2 linked regions of the Homo sapiens genome follow. The protein of the gene in region 2 purifies or fractionates together with the protein of the main gene of each other region. This does not show direct contact. Each region holds a gene or a part of one and is shown on either strand. Other genes may lie near its edges. The genes, in order: SLC36A4 and PCYT1B.

Region 1 (3,827 bases), on a different chromosome or scaffold from region 2:
TGAAAGGAACACATTTTCAAATTCAACTGTGGCTTCCACAGAAGATATATGAAGCCATAACTAGGGCTTTAGAAGAAAATGATTTCACTAACTGGAGAAAAATACTCACTTGTTTCACATTTTCAGCTAAGAAGACAATATAAACACTACAGAATCCCAGCTGTGTTATCACCAGAAAAAAGTCAACCACACTCCTGAAAAAAGATATCCACAAATGAGTATCCAGGAGAGCTACTGAAATGTCAATATATTTTATTTCTCTTTTCAAGAGTTTTAAAACATTTTATTATAGCATATATTCTCCTACTCAGTATGTCAGGAACTCAGAGCAGTTCATGCCAAATCTAACTTCCTGAAAATCTCCAGAAAGGCCACACTTAACTATAAACTACTCTACTAACACTGTTCTTCTTTTAATTCCCATCTCACATGTCATCTTTACAACAGGTAGCACTTTGCTGACTGCTTATGCTTCCTTATTTTTCTAGTCCTGTATTCATCTTACTTTGATTTGCCAGAGCCACCAATAATAAAGTTACATTTAAGTAACAAGACAATAAAATAAGGTTATGCTAAAATATAGCCATACCTCAGATAAGCATACAAATACTACAAATTTATTTGAAATAATGAGACTGCAACATTTTTCTTGTTTTCCTTTATTTAAAAAATTAATGAACACGATTATGTCATCATTTGACCAGGTCATGCTTTATAAATATCATTTTACTTCATCTACCATAATGATCCTGTGAAATGGGTATTACTGTAAACTCATTTCATACTGAGAAAAACAAACCACAATGATAAATAATTTGATCAAGGTCAGAAAGCTGAAAAATGGTCAAGTTGAGATTAGAATCTAAGTCTGTTTAACTCTAAGGGTTACATATGTTTATTCCCCAACTTTATCATATTTTTATTTATATATATTGTTAGGTTAAAATACTTAAAATTAACATAATTTTAACAATCATATATTAATAACAGAGTAAGTACTTACCGCCCCCATGCTGCTTGCTTCTGAAGACAACTCCAAGGACTCACTTCCATAGCAAAGCTCACAGTGTCACTATAACCTAATGTTGACTTTTTAAACCTGTAATTTAATGACATACATACAAAGGAAAAAAGAAAAATTTTAAGGTGGTCCATAAAACCACCTCTTGAAATAAACATAAAATAAATGGGAATTAATAAATGCAAGGCTATGAACTGACAAATGAGTTACCAAAATGTCAAGATCTGCATACTTCTAAAGCATGCCTCATAAAGTTTTAAATGTTTAAATCTGTCCTTTTTACCAGTACATTAATTTTATCTACTGCTAAAGTTTATGTAAGTGCAGAACTCATGTAACTTAATATTTGTACTTTATTAATTTAAATATTTCAAATGCCTAAAACATCAACTACATTATTCATGTCTAAATTATTCCATTCTTAGAACAGCATTATTTAATAATACATCTGTGCAAGGCTGCACAATACATTTTCACATAAACTATCTCATTTAATCTTCCCATGAGGTAGGTATTATTTCTCCATTCTCTCTTTTTTTTTCCCAAGTATACATTGTTCTATAAAGCTCATAAATGATTTGCCCAAAGTTTTAAGAGTATATAACAACAACAAAAAAGAGTCAAGACTTGATATTAGGCTACTAGAATACATATGGTCTACTGTCCAGTAGAAGTATTTCATGATACAAAAATAAAGACAAATAATATTGTGTTGTTGACTATCTACTAACTCATACATCAGCAGAGAGCACCAAAGGCATTATAATCAAAACAGAATTACTAACACATTGAAGACTATTATGCTATAGCTAAAAATCACACCACTGTCTCCATTGCCTCTATATATCTTTTCTAATTTTTTCCATTTATACTAAGAGAAACCATACTATTTCACTAATAAGGCTACCTTTTAAAAATAAATAGATTCCAACCAGATTTAAATTATATGAAATGCTACCTTCTTCCATATTCATTACCTTAGATTTATCTACGTAAAAGCTTAAACGAAATACAAAGCACAGTAGAATATAAGACTATCTGATGCTGTAAATAAAAGATAGCTTTAAAATAAATAGGCTTAACAAATCCACATTTACCTCAGACATAGAAAGTGACTGCAACGTACCAATATGTGCATACAGTGAACAGAAATAATTCCTATAAACACAAGGCTGATTGGTCCAAGCTGTGGGGAAAAAAAATTTATAAGGTTTAAATATTTAACAGAAATTGAGTAATCTTATAAGCAATGAATCAATGGATTATTCACGTGCAGTGAATAAATATTTGTTGAGCAAAATGATTAGTCATTGCATAAGGGAAAACTAATAAACTTGATGCAGAAGGAATTTCGAGTAATATTTAAGACAACCATGTATAATTCCATCTTATTAACATAGCTACTCAAACCTACGAATATGGAGTATAGACAACAAAGTAGGATAGAACACAAGATCATATTTAACATCAGATGGCAAGTCTACAACTATCAGTGACCCACCATTATAATTATATGCAACCATGCATCATTATCTAAATCCCGAAAACGCACAATATCAAACGGAGACTGTGAGCAATTTATTTCTTCTACAGACTGCTTCTTGGGTACTTACTATGTGTCAGAAACCATGCTTATAAAATAATTATTTCAAAAAGTAGTAAATAAAATACTTTAAATATTTATTTACTAAAATTAAAGCAATGCTAGTAATTACCCAGATACAACCAAAATATTGCCAAAGTTTATTTTTATAATCAAAAGTTTTTATCATCTAAATTAGGGGAACAAAACAGTCAAATGCAGGGATAGTTAAAACTGTTTTTAGAAAGTGGTCTATTCAAAAAAGTTAAATATTATTTTATTACCTCATAAATGGGTTTCTCCCCTATCAAGGTTCTCTGCAATTATAATAATTACAATAACTGCCTCTAACAATGCTTTACATATTGGTTTTTAAAAGTTATTGTTATTACTTTTCTTTTATTTATTTATTTATTTTTTTTTTTGAGACAGAGTCTTGCTCTGTCGCCCAGGCTGGAGTGCAGTGGCGCAATCTCAGCTCAATGCAAACTCCACCTCCTGGGTTCACGCCATTCTCCTGCCTCAGCCTCCCGAGTAGCTGGGACTACAGGCATCCGCCACCACGCCCGGCTAATTTTTTGCATTTTTTAGTAGAGACGGGGTTTCACCGTGTTAGCCAGGATGGTCTCAATCTCCTGACCTCGTGATCTGCCCACCTCGGCCTCCCAGAGTGCTGGGATTACAGGCATGGGCTACCGCACCCGGCCAACTTTTCTTAACTGTTATTTAAATTCTGAAAACTGTATATTTGACTCTAAAAAAACTATACAATGTCACGTTACCAATAATCTGCTCTATAAATATATTTGTTGCTGTGATTACACTGCTAAATTCAATTCCTGAAAATCTAAAATAATAATAAGATATAACTATACCTGGAAAAATCAAAGACTGTTTTAGGTTTGTGGCTTTTTTTTGGCTAAATATTACAAATAAGTAATGAAGTAGAAATGAATAAAGTAATTATTATTTTTTGTTAAATATCATTATCACAGTTGACACAATTTTATCAAGACAACATCTAAATGATCATCTAAATGTCACCTTACCAGGTTATATTTGACTAGGCCAGATATTAGGTTGCTATAAATGAGACTGAGAACTGCATCTTAACTGGTGATTACAAAGATAAGTCTTACCACTATGCCTGCATTTTTTATTGCCAATGGAAGTCCTAAAAGGCCAGTTCCAATATTTCCTTTAAGAAGGTGCATAAGAGTTTGT
Region 2 (3,827 bases):
GTTTTACTACAAAGAACACAGATATCTGATTTATTTCTACTCCTGTTCCCAAACACAGCAGATATGACTGGGAGGGCTAAATAAAGCATCTCTAAAAGTGCATCTAGGCACATCTTGCTTCCGAATCACCTGGGAGCTTGAGCAGGCAATTCTCTGCTCACTGAAGTTTGTGAACTATGTGTCATGGAAATAGGGGCTTTAGAAGTCAGACAAACCTAATTTCAACTCCCAGCTTAATCAGTTAATATTTGATCTTTGGGGCCGGGCACGGTGGCTCACGCCTGTAATCCTAGCACTTTGGGAGGCCGAGGCGGGAGGGTCACTTGAGGTCAGGACTTCAAGACCATCCTGGCCAACATGGTGAAACCCCATCTCTACTAAAAAAAAAAAAATATATATATATATATATATAAATTAGCTGAGCGTGGTGGCGTGCACCTGTAATCCCAGCTACTGGGGAGGCTGAGGCAGAAGAATCACTTGAACCTGGGAGGCGGAGGTTGCAGTGAGCTGAGATCATGCCACTGCACCCAGCCTGGGTGACAGAGCAAGACTTCATCTCAAAAATATACATATGTATCTTTTTGGATCTTTGGGAAATTACTTGATTATTTATTTCCTTACTTATAACATGAGGAATAGTAATGCTTATTTCATGGGTCTGCAGCCTGATTAAATGAGATAATACATATAGAGCATTCAACACAGTGCCCAATACAGTGTGCACTGTGAATGGTTGTTCAATTCCCCGACTTGCCCATGGAGAAAAAGGAGTGAGACCACTAGCCTTGCATCCCATATAGAACAATTACCTTATAACTAAACAATTTGGAGGTACAATAGAATTTATTATTATGTGACTGTGCCTACAGTCAATATTAGGCACACCAGAGATGAAACACAGAAGCCTGCATGTACCAGGAATGGGCTTTCAACATCATTTGGTTGGCAATAGGCTGTACACATCATTCATGATGTTTCTATTAACCTATTACCGTTGTTATTTTTCTTAAATGACAGTTTAAATAACCCTCAGCATCCTGATGTCAGGTTCAGCATGCATGAATTACCGAGTAGAAAACAAAAACACCAAGTCAAAGATTTTGGCGGGAGGGAGGAGATTATATGAAAATGAATTCTGCTCAATAGGCTAGCCCCGTGTGGCCCTGCACACTATTACACAGGCGCACACTACCAGGGCTCACTGCTTTATTTTCTAATCACTGTGTTTTCAAGTCTGCCTTCAAGATTGTTGAGTGCTAAACTGTCTCTTTATCCCCAAGCAAGGTCAGCTTCCCAGCCTCCCATACAACCCAGTTCATGCTGGGATAAAGAGGAAGGTAGGAATGTTAAAACAATAATGCTATGGTCTGAGGCCAGCAACGGGTAATCAGATCCTAGCAAGGTAGAGGCTGTTACCTGGGAGATTATTGGAAGAAAATAGGCCTAGCTTGCAATGACTTAGTTTGTTTCTACCTTCCTTGCTTTTTTTTCCTTTTCATTCTTCCCCCCAGTGATCTGATGGGATAATTATTTTCCTGCATTTATTTCCCTAACAGTCACTGAGAAGCTTTGTGTGGGGCACCAGCTAAAGATGTAAGAGTTTTGGGACTACAGCCTGACCCATTGCTGGACTTTAACCCCAAGTAGCAAGCTTAGATGGACAACATTGATTAAGAAAGGCCTCTATAGTTCAAGCCCATACTGCCATGCCTCAAAGAAGGCCCAATGTTTCAAACTTCTGTAGTATGAAATAGATAAATTAGGAGGCTACTGTTCACATTAAGAAGAGATTCAACACAGGTTTCCCGAAACAATGAATAGAACATTCCATATATGATTTGGAATACATTCAACCTGTCTGAGAAAGCATCTGAAGAATAAAACAGAAGACAGCAGAAGTGGTTTGTACAACATCAATGTAAAACTTCAAAGTGCTTGTGAACATTTGTTATTCATATTTAGCCAGTGTGTCTTACCATAAGATCATGCAACCTGTTTTTACCCCAAATGGATAAAACCAACAGGGGGTGAGGAATGGGGTAGCCCAGACTTTTGATAGGAGCATGAGCTCAAACAGAACATACTGCAGTAGACCAAGTTCCAAGGCAATGAAAGCTAGAATCACACTCTAAGGATCTATCCAATCCATTGTCGGGGACAGAATGGAATCCAGAGAGGAAAGTGATTTGCTTAAGTGCACACAATAATTCAATGGCAAAACTGACACTGGAACAAGACTATGGGCTCCAGCAAGTCCAGACCAAGCTTTAGCACATTTGTCTTGACAGCCCCCTGTCCTTTCACCGTGGGCTAGTTCAGCTCTCCCTGGCCAGATCTAGACTTGGCTTGATGGGCATTGGTGTGGAGTCCCAGAGGCCACAACGAAGCAGATCCATTTGCTCTCATCACTGCATCTCATCAGGAACCATCTCAGCCTTTCCACTTCTCCCTACCCACAGCCTGGAGGCCTCAGGAGAGGACATATCCTGGGGCTGGACTCAACTACCCAGGATATACCAGAATTATAGTTCCGTACTAGCCAGAAATAAGCCACCATGATTTTGCTTCCACCTTCACAGATGAAAAACAGGCTATCAGATAGAGAGGCCTTCAACTTTCAGTACCCTTCCTCTTATAACTTGTTCTTGCCCAAACCATCCTTGCCAGCTTCCTTGCCACTACAGTGGGAGAGGTGTCTTTTTTTCTCCCTGAAGCCAATCCTTCCACTTGTGCACTGGAGCCCAACCTGTCCAGCCTAAGAGACATTCCCTTCATCAGTTGTCCCCATCACCATCGCCCCTTCCCTCTCCCACTGGCTCTTTCCCATTTATATTTAGGCACAAGTTGCTATCATCTTAAAAGAATGAGCCAACCAAAAGATCTGACATCTTGGATGGATGAAAGGAATGAGAAATAAAAGGAAAAAAAGATGAAGGGAGGGAAGATGAAAGGAACGAAAGAAGGAAGGGGAAAAGCTAGTCTCTAGTAACCCTAAGCCCTGATTTGTCCACCTCTGGGTACTGTACATTCTATCTGCTTCCTCTCTCAGTCAAGCTTCCACTTCCCTACCACCTATAGGCTCCTCAATCTACTGCCATCCAGCCTCCGCTCCCACCACTTCACTGAAACATCACCACTGACCTCTTCTTTCTAAATCCAAAGGAAACTTTTCCTCCTTAACTCATTTGATCTCTCTACTGCATTTGATTCTATTGGACATTCCCTCCATGAAACTTACCCTGCCCTTGGTCCCTTGATCTCCCAGTTATTTGAGAAATACTTCTCTGTCTTCTTTTCATGATCCTTCTTCTATTGGCCCTTTAAGTAGTCTTTCTTAGGGTTCCAACCTGGGAAGATTCTGGGATAAAGTAGATTAGCTTAACCAGATTTCATGTAGAGACAGATGAATAGAAGGAGGAGTCTAATAGCTTTAATTACAGCTCCTCTATTTTCCCCCTCTAAGAACCTGATAGGATGGCTCAGGGTCAGTTACTTTCTAGAATTAGCCCTGTAGTGGGATTATCCTGAGGCACTCTTCCTAGGTAACCATCTCCATCCACTTCCTTCTCAGTCCAGAAACTATCTCAATTTCACTCTCATCCATTTCACTGCCTCAATTTCACTTCCATCTCCTCCATGCTATCTCCCAGATCTATATCTCCAGCTCAGAACTCTCTCCTGAGTTCCCCAACCAAACATGAACTAGACACCTCCAAGTGGAAGTCCCCATGGCACCTCAGACATAACTCTCACAAACTCTACTTCCCTGGCACACCCATCTCAGTGATGGCACTCACTAGTTGGAGCCAGAAAACAAACTGTGC

What was found.
Region 1: the proteins of PCYT1B (region 2) and SLC36A4 fractionate together in Homo sapiens (co-fractionation; one large-scale study listed by BioGRID). This does not show direct contact.

Annotation. Positions count from the first base shown.
Region 1 is NC_000011.10:93,180,688-93,184,514, forward strand, and holds part of SLC36A4 (neutral amino acid uniporter 4), read right to left. Parts: coding exon 3,743-3,827; intron 2,208-3,742; coding exon 2,119-2,207; intron 1,100-2,118; coding exon 1,004-1,099; intron 195-1,003; coding exon 110-194; intron 1-109.
Region 2 is NC_000023.11:24,637,101-24,640,927, forward strand, and holds part of PCYT1B (choline-phosphate cytidylyltransferase B), read right to left. Parts: intron 3,362-3,827; exon of another isoform or gene 3,242-3,361; intron 1-3,241.